Regions from separate parts of the Homo sapiens genome. Here region 1 is linked to region 2. The links come from fine-mapping of genetic effects on gene expression. Tissue or cell type: whole blood. Region 2 holds a variant in brackets; the other region holds the start of a gene. All regions are shown on one strand. Distances are between the middles of the regions.

Evidence for each region. PIP is the estimated chance that this variant, and not a neighbour inherited with it, causes the effect.
Region 1: UPK3B starts here. The variant in region 2 is fine-mapped to the expression of UPK3B in whole blood (GTEx, PIP 0.94).

Annotation. Positions count from the first base shown.
Region 1 is chr7:76,506,852-76,514,954 of GRCh38, forward strand. UPK3B (uroplakin 3B) reads left to right here and starts at 3,701. Exons shown (of 6, transcript NM_001347684.2): 1 at 3,701-3,886; 2 at 4,052-4,201; 3 at 4,806-5,031; 4 at 6,233-6,312; 5 at 7,096-7,225. The coding sequence starts at 3,802. LOC124901675 (a long non-coding RNA gene) reads right to left here and starts at 3,882. Exons shown (of 2, transcript XR_007060388.1): 1 at 3,673-3,882; 2 at 1,330-3,257. RefSeq lists a silencer at 2,083-2,288 and enhancers at 3,166-3,738, 3,739-4,311, 5,065-5,716, 5,717-6,368, 6,369-7,018.
Region 2 is chr7:76,648,181-76,656,283 of GRCh38, forward strand. No RefSeq gene overlaps it. Among named protein-coding and RNA genes, the nearest start is that of POMZP3, 25 kb to the left of the region's middle. The variant C/T (reference allele first, on the strand shown) is at 3,259.

The DNA.
Region 1 (8,103 bases), 140 kb before region 2:
TCAAGGCTGCAGTGAGCTATGATTGCACCACTGCACTCCAGCCTGGGCAACAGAGCAAGATCCCATCTGTAAAATCATAATAAAAAGAGACAGATTGAATGCTTGGCTAGGTAGGTGGAATCCAGGCCAGGGTTGATCTGACACCATTCTCAAAGTTCTAATTCTTCCTCCTCTTGGAAGGAGGATCAGATATCCCCAGTCAAGATCTTGCTGCTTGTCCGGGAGGAGTAGTTTGGGCCTGGGACCAGAGGGGGACGGTAGGGCCACCTCATTCATGGCTGTGGAAAGCAGAGGCACTTTGGCCTTGGTGAGCCCCTTTCTCTGTTAAACCTATTTTACAACATGTTGGTATAAAGATGAATATATTAATGTATACTAGAGGATTTTCTCTCACCTAAAGGTTCATTTTTTTCCCTTCTGATTTTAAAAGAAATTAAAAATGTATGTCAGCTCTTATAGTGTGGGCCCAGGGCACTGTGCCTAATGGTAAGTTGGTCCAGGGTAAAAAGGGTAGTGAGGTCTCTCTAGAAGACCCCAGTGTTGGCCGGGTACAGTGGCTCAGGCCTGTCATCCCAGCACTTTGGGAGGCTGAGGCGGGAGGATCACAAGGTCAGGAGTTCGAGACCAGCCTGGCCAACGTGGTGAAACCCCCTCTACTAAAAATACAAAAATTAGCTGGGCATGGTGGTGTGCACCTACAATTCCAGCTAACTTGGGAGGCTGAGGCAGGAGAATTGCTTGAACCCGGAAGGCAGAGGTTGCAGTGAGCCGAGATCACGCCACTGTACTCCAGCCTGGCGACAGAGCAAGACTCCGTCTCAAAAAATATATATAAAAACAAAACCATGAGATGCCACACTACACCCATTACGATGGCTATACTAAAACAAAAAGCAGTGTTGGAGAGGATGTCGAGAAATGGGACCCTCATCCACTGCTACTGGGAATGTAAAATGCAGCCACTTTGGCAAACAGAACCTCAGAAAGCAGCATTAGCATATGACCACAGTTCCACTCCTAGGTACATTCTCAAGAGAATTGAAAATGTGCCCACAGAAGCCTGCGCACGGATGCTCATGGCAGCATTATTTACAGTAGCCCCACAGTGGAAAAAAACAAATTCTGCATCCACTGATGAATGAAAGTGTGATACGTTCACAGGATGGAATATTACTCAACTGTGAAAAGGAATGAAGCAATCACAGTCGAGGAGGAACCTTGAAAAAGTAACAAAAGCCAGACACAAAAGGTCACATGTTGTGTGACTGCATCCTATGAAATGTCCATTACGGGCAAAACCATGGAAACAAGAAGTAGCTTAGTCGTCACTGGGGACGGGAGAATGGAGAGTTACCGTTTAATGGGTGTAGTGTTTCGTTTTGGGGAAGTAAGAAGGTTCTGGAATTGGTGATGGTTGCACAACCTTGTTGATATACTAAAAGCTGTTGGGCGCTGTGGCTCATGCCTGTAATCTGGGCACTTTGGGAGGCTGAGGCAGGAGGATCCCTTGAGCCAGGAGTTCAAGACCAGGCTGGGCAACACAGTGAGACCCTGTCTCTACAAGAAATATATTTTTATTATATTTTTTTTGAGACAGAGTCTCACTCTGTCATCCACGCTGTAGTGCGGTGGTGCGATCTCAGCTCACTGCAACCTCCGCCTCCCGGGTTCAAGTCATTCTCCTGCCTCAGCCTCCCGAGTACTTGGGATTACAAGCACGTTCCACCACACCCGGCTAATTTTTGTAATTTTAGTCGAGACAGGGTTTCACCATGTTCGCCAGGCTGGTCTCGAACTCATGACCTCAAGTGACCTGCCCACCTCGGCCTCCCAAAGTGCTGGGATTACCGCCGTAAGTCACTACACCCAGCCTCAAAAACTATATTTTTAAAAATTAGCAGCTGGGCGCAGTGGCTCATGCCTGTAATCCCAGCACTTTGGGAGGCCAAGGCAGGTAGATCGCGAGGTCAGGCGTTCGAGACCAGCCTGGCCAAGTTGGTGAAACCTCATCTCTACTAAAAATACAAAAATTAGCTGGGCATGGTGGTAGGTGCCTGTAGTCCCAGCTACTAGGGAGGCTGAGGCAGAAGAATTGCTTGAACCCAGGAGGTGGAGGTTGCAGTGAGCAGAGATCACGCCATTGCACTCCAGCCTGGGCGACAGGGTGAGACTCCATGTCTCAAAAAAAAAAAAAAATAGCCAGGCACGGTGGCTCACGCCTGTAATCCCAATACTTTAGGAGGCCAAGGCAGGAGATTTGCTTGATCCTCCCAGGAGTTAGAGATCAGCCTGGGCAACATAGCAAGATCCTGTTTCTATAAAAAATACATTTTTAAAAATTGGCCAGCCGGGCGCAGTGGCTCACACCTGCAATCCCAGCGCTTTGGGAGGCTGAGGTGGGTGGATCACCTGAGGTCAGGAGTTCGAGACCAGCCTCACCAACGTGGAGAAACCCTATCTCTACTAAAAATACAAAATTAGACAGGTGTGGTGGCACATGCCTGTAATCCCAGCTACTCAGGAGGCTGAGGCAGGAGAATCACTTGAACCCAGGAGGTGGAGGTTGCGGTGAGCCAAGATCGAGCCATTGTACTCCAGCCTGGGCAACAAGAGTGAAAACTCCGTTTCAAAAAAAACAAAAAAAAAATTGGCGGGGGTGCCAGGCACGGTGGCACATGCCTGTAATCCCAGCACTTTGGGAGGCCAAGGCGGGTGGATCACTTGAGATCAGGAATTTGAGACCAGCCAAGCCAACATGGTGAAACCCCGTCCCTACTAAAAATACAAAAATTAGCTGGCCGTGGGGCACATGCCTGTAATCCCAGCTACTTGGGAGGCTGAGGCAGGAGAATCGCTTGAACCCAGGAGGCGGAGGTTGCAGTGAGCCCAGATCACGCCACTGCACTCCAGCCTGGACAACAAAGGAGACTCCATCTTAAAAAAAAATTAATTAAATAAATTTTAAAAATTAGCCGGAGCATGGTGTTGTGTGCCTGTGGTTCCAGCTACTGGGAAGGCTGAGGTGGGAGGATTAACTGAACCTGGGAGTTTGAGGCTCCAGTTAGCTGTGAACTGACCTCCCTGGGTGACATATATATATTTAAGCCACTGAGCTGTGAAGGTTGTGAAGGTATGTGAGTTATGTCTTGAAAAATACACACATAGTGAGCGCCAAATCCCGGGAGTAGTGTTTAAGTGGCGGGCTTGTCAGCTGTCAAGGGCTCTGCAGCCCTTTCTCTGAATCCAAGTTCTTCTTCCTGTGGACAGGGAACCCAGGCTGCGAACTGGGAGGATGTGGCCTCGTGGGGGGCAGGGCCAGCGTGCTGTGATGGGGATGGGGCTGGGCAGGTTGGGGCTGCCTGCTACTCCCCACTCCTGACTCTGGGTGGGGACAGAAGGCAGAGGGAGGCTCCTGGCACCTGGGGCACAGGAATCTCAGGCATGTGGTCCTGAGCCTGTTTCCAAAAGCCAGACCCTCCTCCCCAGGGCGGAGAGACTGGGAGGGGCCCCAATCCAGGCTCCGGGATGGCCTGGCTGGCATCTGGGGTTCCAGTGGCCCCTCTCCCTTGGCCCTGGCAGTGGGGCTGGATACTGGCCTGCCTCCCACCAGAGTCCCCCCAGCTCCTCCCTGCTGTGGGCTGGCCTGGGAGGAAGGGGGTGGGGTGCACTTACATTTGCAGGTCTTTCCAGCCCCTGGGGCAGCCTGATTAACCAGCTTCTCCAGGGCCAAGCTGTTGGGGGTGAGGTGCAGCCCGAAGCAGCCAGACCAGCCCCTGAGCCTCCCGGGTGCTGGCAGCTGTCATGGGGCTACCCTGGGGGCAGCCTCACCTAGGGCTGCAGATGCTCCTCCTGGCGTTGAACTGTCTCCGGCCCAGCCTGAGCCTGGGTGAGTGGGGGTCCTGGATGGACGCGTCCAGCCAGACCCAAGGGGCTGGGGGCCCTGCTGGAGTGATTGGACCCTGGGCGCCCGCCCCCCTCCGATTGGGAGAGGCAGCCCCAGGGACCCCCACGCCCGTCTCCGTGGCTCACCTTTTGTCCCCCGTGGCCACAGAGCTGGTGCCCTACACACCACAGATAACAGCTTGGGACCTGGAAGGGAAGGTCACAGCCACCACCTTCTCCCTGGAGCAGCCGCGCTGTGTCTTCGATGGGCTTGCCAGCGCCAGCGATACCGTCTGGCTCGTGGTGGCCTTCAGCAATGGTACGGGGACTGCTGTGGGGCCTGGGTGAGGGTGACGGCTGAGGAGAGTGGTGGGCCCTAGGAGCCCCTCACCAGCAAGCGCCTTCAATGATTGAGCCCCTGTGGGGGCCTTTGGGAGAGTAGGTGTGGATGAATTGGGCTTTATCTAAAGGGGTAATATGTGTATTGAAAAATACACACGTAGTGAACACCAAATCCCGGGAGTAGTGCTAGTGGTGGGTTTGTCAGCTGTCAAGGGCTCTGCAACCCTTTCTCTGAATCCAAGTAGTTCTTCCTTTGGACAGGGAACCGAGGCTGCGACCTGGGAGGATGTGGCCTCCTGTGGGGCAGGGCCGGTGCACTGCAATGGGGCTGGGGCTGGGGCTGGGCAGGTTGGGACTGCCCGCTGCTCCCCACTCCTGGCTCTGGGTGGGGACAAAAGGCCAGAGGGAAGCTCCCCTTCAGGGGTAACAAAGTCGACTGGGTCTGGACTATCTCTGGGGGCCCTGAGGGAGGAGGTGGCATGGGGGGTCAGGGCTGGAGACTGGGCGAACACAGAACCCCCACTCATAAGGACAAAGCTGCTTTCTCCCCTCCCACCTCCATCTGTTCTCTCCTCCTGCAGCCTCCAGGGGCTTCCAGAACCCGGAGACACTGGCTGACATTCCGGCCTCCCCACAGCTGCTGACCGATGGCCACTACATGACGCTGCCCCTGTCTCCGGACCAGCTGCCCTGTGGCGACCCCATGGCGGGCAGCGGAGGCGCCCCCGTGCTGCGGGTGGGCCATGACCACGGCTGCCACCAGCAGCCCTTCTGCAACGCGCCCCTCCCTGGCCCTGGACCCTATCGGTGGGTGGTCCCCACCGGAGCCCTGGGACTGGGGCTGTGCTTGGGGCGGACGCATTGCTGGGACCAGGGATGCTCTCTCTAGCATCTTTCCAGGGAGGGGTCCCCGGCCCCGGTCCTCCCCTTTGCAAGCCCGGGCTCCTTCCACTGTAGAGTCAGCAACAGTGCTCACCCCCGCTGGGGCCGGGCAAGGCCCAGGAGGAGCAGGTGGGCACCTTGGGGAGGCGGGATCTTAGTCAAGGTGGGAGGGGGCAGCTTCCCCAAAGTCTAGGCCCCTGTCCCCCACCACGGGCAGATCTGGCAGGAAACTCGGGGGCCGAGTTCAGACCCAGTCTCGTCGGTATTAGGCAGGGAGCAGGAGAGGTGGCTCCTACCCGCTCTTACAGATGAGGAAACTGAGGCACAGGAGGTCAAGTGGCCTGCCAACATCGGGGTGGAGCCGGGATGGGGAAGCAGGCAGTGTGTCCAGGTCAGGACTGTCCGGACACAGGAGGAGGCGGGGTGACCTCAGGAAGACCAGGCCCAGGGGAAGCCGGGAAGGCAGGGCGTGGTGAGGCTGGAACAGCACCCCGCTCCGCCCAGCCCCCTTCTGCCCTCTCACCCACTCTCCAGGTCCACCCTCTGCCCTCCCCGCTGCCTCACCCTGGCTCAGCCTTCCAGCTCCATGCCCCGCCCCATCCCCCGCAGCCACTCTTTTCAATGCCAACCTGCCAGGTCCTTCCCCGCTTCCCAGGCCTTGCAGAGCTCCCAGCCCTGCAAAGAGACAAACCGAGGCCCTCTGCGGGGCTCCTGGTGCCCTGGGTCCTCAGGCTGCTGGTGATTGAGCCCCCTGCCCCCGGCTACTGCTGCCCCTCTGGGAGGCCTGTGACCCCTGCCCCATGTGCCCTGCTAAGCCACCTTCACCTGCTCTTTTGGCTTGTGACATTTAGGAACCAGGGCCCCTAAACCAGCATCCCCGGCCCAGGTCTGGTGTCTGGAGAGCAATTGCTCGGGGGGATGAGGGGTGGTGGCACAGGCCAAGTGGCTGGAGACATCTCAGGGGATTCTCAGAGCAGGGCCAGGCCATGGGCTGCTGCTCTTGACGGGCACCCCCACTCCACATCCATGGGAGGGCCCCAGAGGAGCTGCCTGGGGCTTGGCCCTGCCCAGGGTGGTCCCAGCCTCTGAAGCTCTCCCCTCCTCCCCCACCACCTCCCATCCCCAGGGTGAAGTTCCTCCTGATGGACACCAGGGGCTCACCCAGGGCTGAGACCAAGTGGTCAGACCCCATCACTCTCCACCAAGGTAGCGCTGGGCAGGAGGGGCGCTGCCCCCAGTGGACTCACGATCTCTCTGGGCCGCCTCTGCTGAGCTGGCCACACCCCTGCTCCCACAGGGCTGGGGGCCTGGAGGCCATGTCCAAGTCGGGCCCAGCCCCCAACAGAACCTCATGCTGGGGGAGTGGGGCACCCAGCCAGCCCCCTCGGCAGGGGCACCATCTCGGCCCATCCGCAAGCGTTTGCCACATTGTGGGCACAGACAGCCTCCCCCCTCCTGTAGGGAGTCAGCCTGTGTCAGCCCCTGCTGGGAGGGAGGAAGAGGGTGTGGAGGAGGTCAGGGTCAGGGTCGGGGCTGGCTGGGGAGGCAGCCAGCTTGAGTTCTGAGCAGACCCCAAGGGGCAAGCGTGAATGTACCAAGCCCAGAAGTTTCGAGTGCCACGGCCCAGGTGTCGGGGGTGGGGGTCTCCTGGGAGACGGCTTCAGAGGTCAGGGGGTGTGGGGTGGAAGTCTTGTCATCTGAAGGCCTTGACTGCTGGGCTCCAGGGAGCAGGGCAGTGGATGAGCACGTGGGTGGGAGCAGCCTAGAAGGTAGGAGCAGGGCGGAGGCTGTGGTCCAGGCTGGCAGAGAACAGATGCTGTGCCGTCCCGAGGAAGAGGGACGGGGGGTGGGATCAGGGGGGCGCCTGGGGATATGAGACAGCCAGACCTTGAAGCTAGGCCAGCGTGGGTGGGGAGGGAGCGAGGGAGGAGATGACAGCCAGCCCTGGGGTCGAGGGGCAGCCCCTCTGAGCAGCTGGTGTGTGTGCAGGGAAGACCCCCGGATCCATCGACACCTGGCCAGGGCGGCGAAGTGGCAGCATGATCGTCATTACCTCCATCCTCTCTTCTCTGGCCGGCCTCCTACTCTTGGCCTTCTTGGCAGCCTCTACCATGCGCTTGTGAGTGGGGACACCCCCTCGGGCCCCTCTCCCACCCAGAACCCCTCTGTTGAATTGGTCCCAGTGTCTGGAAGCCCTCCAGGCATGCCATGGGGTTTATTTTATTTTTGGTAGAGACAGGGACTTGCTATGTTGCCCAGGCTGGTCTGGAACTGCTGGGCTCAAGCGATCCTCCCGTCTCGGCCTCCCAAAGTATTAGGATTACAGGTGTGAGCCACCTTGCCGAGCCCCGTGGTTTCGAGCTGGGCAGCGCCCCTCCCAGGGCCTGTGCAGGGAACTCCCACCCTGAGTATCTCGCACCTCAGGGGTCATTGATGGGGCCAGCAGCCCCTCTGAGGACAGGTTCGGGAGGTCCCGCCTCACTCGGGCCCTGTCTTTTCAGTGTGTCCTCAGCCAAGGCCCTTCTCCTCCCGGGCCTCACCTGCTGTCTGTGGATCCTCTGGTGGTTTAGTAAGCTGACGCCAGGGTAGTCAGGGTGGCCACCTGGAGAGGTGGTCCTCCAATTGGTTCTAGAAGGGAGGAAGGAGGGATCAGAGACTGCAGGTGAGGCCGGGTGCAGTGGCACATGCCTGTAATCCTAGCACTTTGGGAGGCCGAGGTGGGAGGATCACTGGAGGCCAAAAGTTCAAGACCAGCCTGAGCAACATGGTGAAACCCCATCTCCACTAAAAATGCAAAAATTGTCCGGGTGTGGTGGCAGGCACCTGTAATCCCAGCTACTCGGGAGGCTGAGGCAGGAGAATCGTTTGAACCCGGGTGGCGAAGGTTACAGTGAGCTTAGATCACACCACCGCACTCCAGCCTGGGTGACAGAGCCAGACTCCATCTCAAAAAAAAAAAAAAAAAAAGAAAAGAGAGAGAGAGAGACTACACATGAG
Region 2 (8,103 bases):
TGCAAAAATGTTTAGAAAGTCACTGAACAAACAGCTACAGCCCACAGCAAAAGCAAACCCAGGGGTGGTGGGGAGGATAAAATAATTTCCAGTTACCCCATTATAATACTCAAAATGTCTGATTTCCTTTTTTGAGACGGAGTCTTCGCTCTGTCATCCAGACTGGAGGGCAGTGGTGCGATCTCGGCTCACTGCAACCTCCACCTCCCTGGTTCAAGCAATTCCCCTGCCTCAACCTCCTGAGTAGCTGGGATTATAGGCGCATGCTACCGTGTCTGACTGTTTTTGGATTTTTAGTAGAGATGGGATTTCACCATGTTGGCCAGACTGGTCCTGAACTTCTGACCTCAGGCAATCTGCCCACCTCGGCCTCCCAAAAGTGCTGGGATTACAGGCGTGAGGCACCACGCCTGGACTCTTTTTTTCTTTTTAATTTTACTTTTTCTTTTTTTGGGGAAAAGGGATTAGAGGTGTGAGTCACTGTGCCTGACTCCAATTTTCAAAAAAAAATTACAAACCATGCAGTGACATTAAGAGAGTACAGCCCATTCACAAAAGAAACAAATTGTCTTTAAGGAAGCACAGACATTGAAAGTACTAGACAAAGACTTTAAATCAGCTGTCTGAAATCTGCTCAAAAAGCTAAAAGAAACGATGAATAAAGAGTTAAAGGATACAAGGAGAACAATGTCTCAACAAATGCAGAACATCAATAAAGAAATAGAAAATATTATAGACAGGTGAGGGGCAGTGGCTCATGCCTGTAATTCCAGCACTTTGGGAGGCTGAGGTGGGCAGATCACCTGGGGCCAGGATTTGAAGACCAGCCTCAGCAACATGGCGAAACCCCCTCTCTACAAAAAATGCAAACAATCAGCCAAGTGTGGTGGCATGCGCCTGTAGTCCCAGCCACTTGGGAGGCTGAGGTGGGAGAATTGCCTGAGCATGAGAAGTCAAGGCTGCAGTGAGCCAAGATTGCACCACTGCACTCCAGCCTGGGTGACAGAGTGAGACCCTGTCTCAAAAAAAGAATTTATTATAGACAAACTAAAGCTTAGAGAAAAAAAGAAAGGAAAAAAATAGAAATTATTGAAAGGAATCAAAGTCTGAAGCTGAAAAGTATACAAAAATTAGCCAGGCATGGTGGCGGGCACCTGTAATCCCAGCTACTCGAGAGGCTGAGACAGGAGAATTGCTTGAACCCAGGAGACAGAGGTTGCAGTGAGCCAAGATCGCACCATTGCACTCCAGCCTGGGTGACAAGAACGAAACTCCATCTCAAAAAAAAAAAAAAAGAAAAGTATAGAAATGGAAATGAAAAATTCACCAGACTATTTCGAATTCATTAGAGCAGATGGAAGAGAGAGTCACTGAACACATGAAGACAGGTAGATGAAACTATCCTGCCTACAGTTCTTTTTTTTTTTTGGATGGAGTTTCACTCTTGTTGCCTAAGCTGGCAAGCTGGGGTGCAATGGCGTGATCTCGGCTCATTGAAACCTCTGCCTACCGGGTTCAAGCAATTCTCCTGCACTGTGCCAGGCCCGACTCAGGCTACTTTTTTATTTTTTTTTTGTAGAGATGGGATCTCACTGTGTTGCCAGACTGGTCTTGAACTCCTGGTCTCAAGCGATCCTCCTACCTCAGCCTCCCAAGGTGCTGGGATTACAGGCATGAGCCACCACACCCAGTCCACATACCATTTTAAAGTGTTACAATTCAGGCTGGGCACGGTGGCTCACGCTTATAATCCCAGCACTTTGGGAGGCCAAGGCGAGCAGATCACCTGAGGTCAGGAGTTCAAGACCAGTCTGGCCAACATGGTGAAACCCCAATCTCTACTAAAAATACAAAAGTAGCCGGGCATGGTGGTGCATGCCTGTAATCCCAGCTACTTGGGAGGCTGAGGCAGGATAATTGTACAAACAAACAGCCCACAACAATTCTCTAATGGTGAGGGAGTAAATAAGTGACCGATAATGCTGGAGGAAGAGGAAGTGAATGGGTCCCCAGTATAGGTTAGAATGAAAAAATCCCTACCAATGTAAATCAAATATAAAATAAACAAAAGAGTTCATGTATGTGTGCGGGAAGGAAAGTGATATTTGGGGGTTGGGAGGTGTCACTGAGGGTACCGAGTACATATAAACAACTCTTTAGTCACTCCCAAAGGTCTGGGATGAGCATTTTTTAACATTTGATACTCTACTAACTTACCTGGACTATGTTGACATGGAAATTCACCTCCCGTTATCCACAGCTCCTCTCCCTGCTCCAACTTAATGATGACGTTTGGCTTGGTGATATCATATCTTGTTAATGGGAAAAGAAGAAGGACTTGGGCAAGTTGCTCGGCTTCAGAATCTCTGAAGTACAAGATGTTGCCACCTCATAAGCTGCATAACAGAAATGCTCCATTTTTTACCTTATCAAAGATAGAACCTTTCAATGAAGAATAATATAAACACTGCAGCTAGTGCCCACAAGGAATTAAGTGGTGTTGTCACTTATTTCTTCAAACTCAAGCATAAAACCCCATTCAACTGAGAGCATTCAGAAAGCAAGCTATCCTCACCCAAGGAAACTAGATGGCTGTAGTTCTCCAACATCACATCCCCGTATGTTATCTTCTCATCAGGGTCCAGTTGCCGCCACTCCTCCTGGGTGAAATCCACAGCCACATCTTTGAATGACACTGGCCCCTGTAATGGCAACATGATCAGAATTGGGAGATATGGAAAAGGGATAGGGGGATAACATTTTACAAAGCTCACTGGTGAAGTTAACCATGAACATCGTATACCTTATTTTATGTTACAGATTATGGAAGGGAAATCATATTGGAAACACATATCCTTTGGGGTCCTTTATATATATACAAAAATAAAAACCCAAAACACCCACCTCGGCCTCCCAAAGTGCTGGGATTACAGCAATGAACCACTGCACCTGGCCAAAAAATTTAAAAATTTTAAAAATAAAATAAAAAATAAGGCCAGGCACGGTGGCTCATGCCTGTAATCCCAGCTCTTTGGGAGGCTGAGGCAGGCGGATCACGAGGTCAGGAGTTTGAGACCATCCTGGCTAACACGGTGAAACCCCATCTCAGTTATGTTATGGAGACTGGCTTATGCACAAATCTTTCTAATGGTTATATATAAAGCACTTGAAGTCTCTATTATTTTATAATAGGCAATACCTAGATAAATAATGAATTTAACTCAAAAGAGATGGGGTCAAATTGTCCCTCTTTGCAGA[C/T]GACATGATTGTATATCTAGAAAACCCCATTGTCTCAGCACAAAATCTCCTTAAGCTGATAAGCAACTTCAGCAAAGTCTCAGGATACAAAATCAACGTACAAAAATCACAAGCATTCTTATACACCAACAACAGACAAACAGAGAGCCAAATCATGAGTGAATTCCCATTCACAATTGCTTCAAAGAGAATAAAATACCTAGGAATCCAACTTACAAGGGATGTGAAGGACCTCTTCAAGGAGAACTACAAACCACTGCTCAAGGAAATAAAAGAGGATACAAACAAAATGGAAGAACATTCCATGCTCATGGGTAGGAAGAATCAATATGGTGAAAATGGCCATACTGCCCAAGGTAATTTACAGATTCAATGCCATCCCCATCAAGCTACCGATGCCTTTCTTCACAGAATTGGAAAAAACTACTTTAAAGTTCATATGGAACCAAAAAAGAGCCCGCATCGCCAAGTCAATCCTGAGCCAAAAGAACAAAGCTGGAGGCATCACACTACCTGACTTCAAACTATACTACAATGCTACAGTAACCAAAACAGCGTGGTACTGGTACCAAAACAGAGATATAGATCAATGGAACAGAACAGAGCCCTCAGAAATAACGCCGCATATCTACAACTATCTGATCTTTGACAAACCTGAGAAAAACAAGCAATGGGGAAAGGATTCCCTATTTAATAAATGGTGCTGGGAAAACTGGCTAGCCATATGTAGAAAGCTGAAACTGGATCCCTTCCTTACACCTTATACAAAAATCAATTCAAGATGGATTAAAGACTTAAACGTTAGACCTAAAACCATAAAAACCCTAGAAGAAAACCTAGGCTTTACCATTCAGGACATAGGCATGGGCAAGGACTTCATGTCTAAAACACCAAAAGCAATGGCAACAAAAGCCAAAATTGACAAATGGGATCTAATTAAACTAAAGAGCTTCTGCACAGCAAAAGAAACTACCATCAGAGTGAACAGGCAACCTACAAAATGGGAGAAAATTTTTGCAACCTACTCATCTGACAAAGGGCTAATATCCAGAATCTACAATGAACTCAAACAAATTTACAAGAGAAAAACAAACAACCCCATCAAAAAGCGGGCGAAGGACATGAACAGACACTTCTCAAAAGAAGACATTTATGCAGCCAAAAAACACATGAAAAAATGCTCGTCATCACTGGCCATCAGAGAAATGCAAATCAAAACCACAATGAGATACCATCTCACACCAGTTAGAATGGCAATCATTAAAAAGTCAGGAAACAACAGGTGCTGGAGAGGATGTGGAGAAATAGGAACACTTTTACATTGTTGGTGGGACTGTAAACTAGTTCAACCATTGTGGAAGTCAGTGCGGCGATTCCTCAGGGATCTAGAACTGGAAATACCATTTGACCCAGCCATCCCATTACTGGGTATATACCCAAAGGACTAGAAATCATGCTGCTATAAAGACACATGCACACGTATGTTTATTGCGGCATTATTCACAATAGCAAGGACTTGGAACCAACCCAAATGTCCAACAATGATAGACTGGATTAAGAAAATGTGGCACATATACACCATGGAATACTATGCAGCAATAAAAAAGGATGAGTTCATGTCCTTTGTAGGGACATGGATGAAATTGGAAAACATCATTCTCAGTAAACTATCGCAAGAACAAAAAACCAAACAATGCATATTCTCACTCATAGGTGGGAATTGAACAGTGAGATCACATGGACACAAGAAGGGGAATATCACACTCTGGGGACTGTTGTGGGGTGGGGGGAGGGGGGAGGGATAGCATTGGGAGATATACCTAATGCTAGATGACGAGTTAGTGGGTGCAGTGCACCAGCATGGCACATGTATACATATGTAACTAACCTGCACAATGTGCACATGTACCCTAAAACTTAAAGTATAATAATAAAAAAAAAAGAATCTTCAAACCTAATGCCTAGAACATTTTATCAACATTAAACTTCTATTTAAAGTTTATTCTTAGCTATCTATAAGAAACGTTTACAGGAAGCAGAAAAGATAAGCTCTTTCTAAGTTAAAAGAGTATATTTGCAAATTGAACTTTCAAAAATTGATAAAGCAGTACACACATTTATTTTTAGAAATTGAAGCTGCAAAGCTAAGCAATTTCCTACTATGACATGTGTGTTGGACAGTGTAGGGCATAGCAATGATTAGTGATTTTCAGCAGCCTTTCTTGAATAGGCATTGAAAATAGCTAAACAAAAAAAGAGAAGTGAGCTGAATTCTTGGAGTGAATATTTTGGAGTGAATTATAAAACAGAGTTCTTGCAATAATGCATGTAAATTAAAAATAGGTTAGCAAAGCATGAGTAAAAATAGTCAATTTTCAAATACTTTTCACAGCTCTCCGAGTCTGACATATTTCTCTGGCTAAAAGGGAAGAAACATATCGGCACTCATGTTGGGAAGACCTTAGAACAGCAAAGTACTAAAACTTGCCAAACCAACTTCAAGTGGCTTTCTTGTTAGTGCAATACACACTGCACTGAGTTCCTGAGCATAATATTTCCACCCTTTCCCATGGAGTCTGCTTAAATTTGAAGATTTTTTTCTGGTAGGTGTATTGTCCTTAATTTTGGAGGAAGTTTTAAAAAGGTGGATTAATGTTATATATGCTTCTGAGAATATTATGCAACCATGAAGCTTTGCACTTCAACATAAATGAATCCCAAAAAGAGCCAGATGAACTGTTGGCTGGGAGGCAGAGCCTTAGGATGTTTCAAATTCATTGTGACTTCACATAAAGGTACTCTCTGGAGTATGAAAGTCAATTTTACAGGTGTAAAATAAAGGAAAAGAAGACAGTCTGAAAGTCAAATGAAATTCCAGGACCACCTGTATTTCAGTGAGGTAAGTGTTATAATAAAGTGTTATGGGTAGATACATAAAAGACAACTAATTTAGAGTAAAAATAAATTGGGGGACTATTAAGAGACTGTCTTAACGTGGAATGAATTTTACAGAGTCTTTATGGTAACATTTGTAGATAAAAATTAGGTTAGTAAAGCATAAGTAAAAATAGTTAATTTTCAAATATTTATCACAGAGCTCTCTAGTTTACATTTAATAATATATTCTGTTGCATTGGATTGATATGCACAGGATTATTTTGTCTCCACGTAGGGGTAGGAAAGAAAACAAATTTGTTTTGCAATAGCCCAGTTTAATAGAGGTGGTACAAACTTTAGGAAGTATTTTAATTTTAGTTAAATTGATCCAGGTTAATTTGGAGACAGTTATGAAGCACATACAAATTACAAATCATAAAATGGTAATTGTATTTGCAGTTGTAAGAACCCAAAAGATTTAAGCTCCATTAGCTAAGAATAAAATGCTGATAACCATGAGTCGCAGCCATGGTTTGGATGTACTCAGAAAAGTTAACTACGTAAAAAATGTCACCTTCTTATTCAGCATATTAGCTCCCTGGGTGTTTTCAAGACATATCTGCTGGCTTTTCTTTTAAAATTACACTTCCCTTAGCTACGCTGTGATATTACAGCTATGGAAGAGTGAGCTGGCTTCACCCTGCCTCATGCATCATCAGCCGAACTGTCAGTAAAGTGCTAATTGCAGAAACTTTATTACTTGAGGTGATACTGAACCAGAGAGAACACAGCTTGATTTTTCATAATCTAAACTTTGCAATGTGAGCAATTAGAAAAAAAAAAACTTTCCTTTTTGTTTCAATTTCTAAGCTAAGCAAAATTAAAATGGATGTCATTGACAGTAAAATAGAAGCTTAAAAATGTTGTCCTTCTAGGTGACTTTATAACTTAGTATAAAATCCCATTAACCCCTTTTTATAAAAATGCATAATTTGAAGCTTAACAGCACTTGCAATTCTATGACACATTTGGCTACCTGTAATTGGTGAAAGACAGAACTTTATTTTCTGCTTCTGTCATTTTTGTATTTTTTGTAGAGGAAATATACTTCAAAGATATGCTTTATATATACTCTCTAAATTTATATATTTCCTGTGGGATCTGAAATATTTAAAGCACCTTTAAACACTATTTCAGAAAATGGGTTTGCAGGTAGCACAAGGAATTTCCTCTAGAAATATAAAAATAGATGAGGATGGTTTAATGGAAAATTTATTGGAATAGACGCATGGAATGTTGGGACCATTTTTAGGGCAAATTCCATGGGGAGTGATTAGAAAAATCAGCAAATATAATTCCATGTGAAATCCTTGGGGAAATTCAGTATACAATAAAACACATGAGTGGGATATCTAAATCAGACCTAAGGGTCTAAAAAGAAAACAAACCTATGATAGCCTCTTAAGGAGGAGAAATAATTAGGGACAAGATGGTAGAAAAGGCAAAGAAAGGAAAAATAGTTTTCTCAGTGTAGGAAACAATGTACAACATCCTTGGGATTATTTCTCCTTTTTATGGTTGTAATGTAGAAAGACTGAAAGTCAATAGGAGTAAATTCTACTGATTAAGTGGGTGGTGTGGATTAGAAGGACACTGGCCTATAAAGTTAACTGTGCAAAATCTTGAAAGGGCTTGCGAGCCACGCTAGAGAATTTCAAATTGATCAGAAGGGCAATAGGAAATCATATAGGGTTTTGCATAGGAATTTAACATGAGCAGATTTGTATTTTTTAGGGGTCAGTCTTATTGACATCTGGAGAGTTGCCTGGAGAGAGACAAGGCTGAAAATAGGGAAACCATTAAAAAAGCTATTACAGCAATCCACATAGGCTATGATCTAAGGCACAGCTGGGGTGGTAGCAGAAGGAACAGATGAATTTGAAAGATACTTAGGAGATAAAATCAACA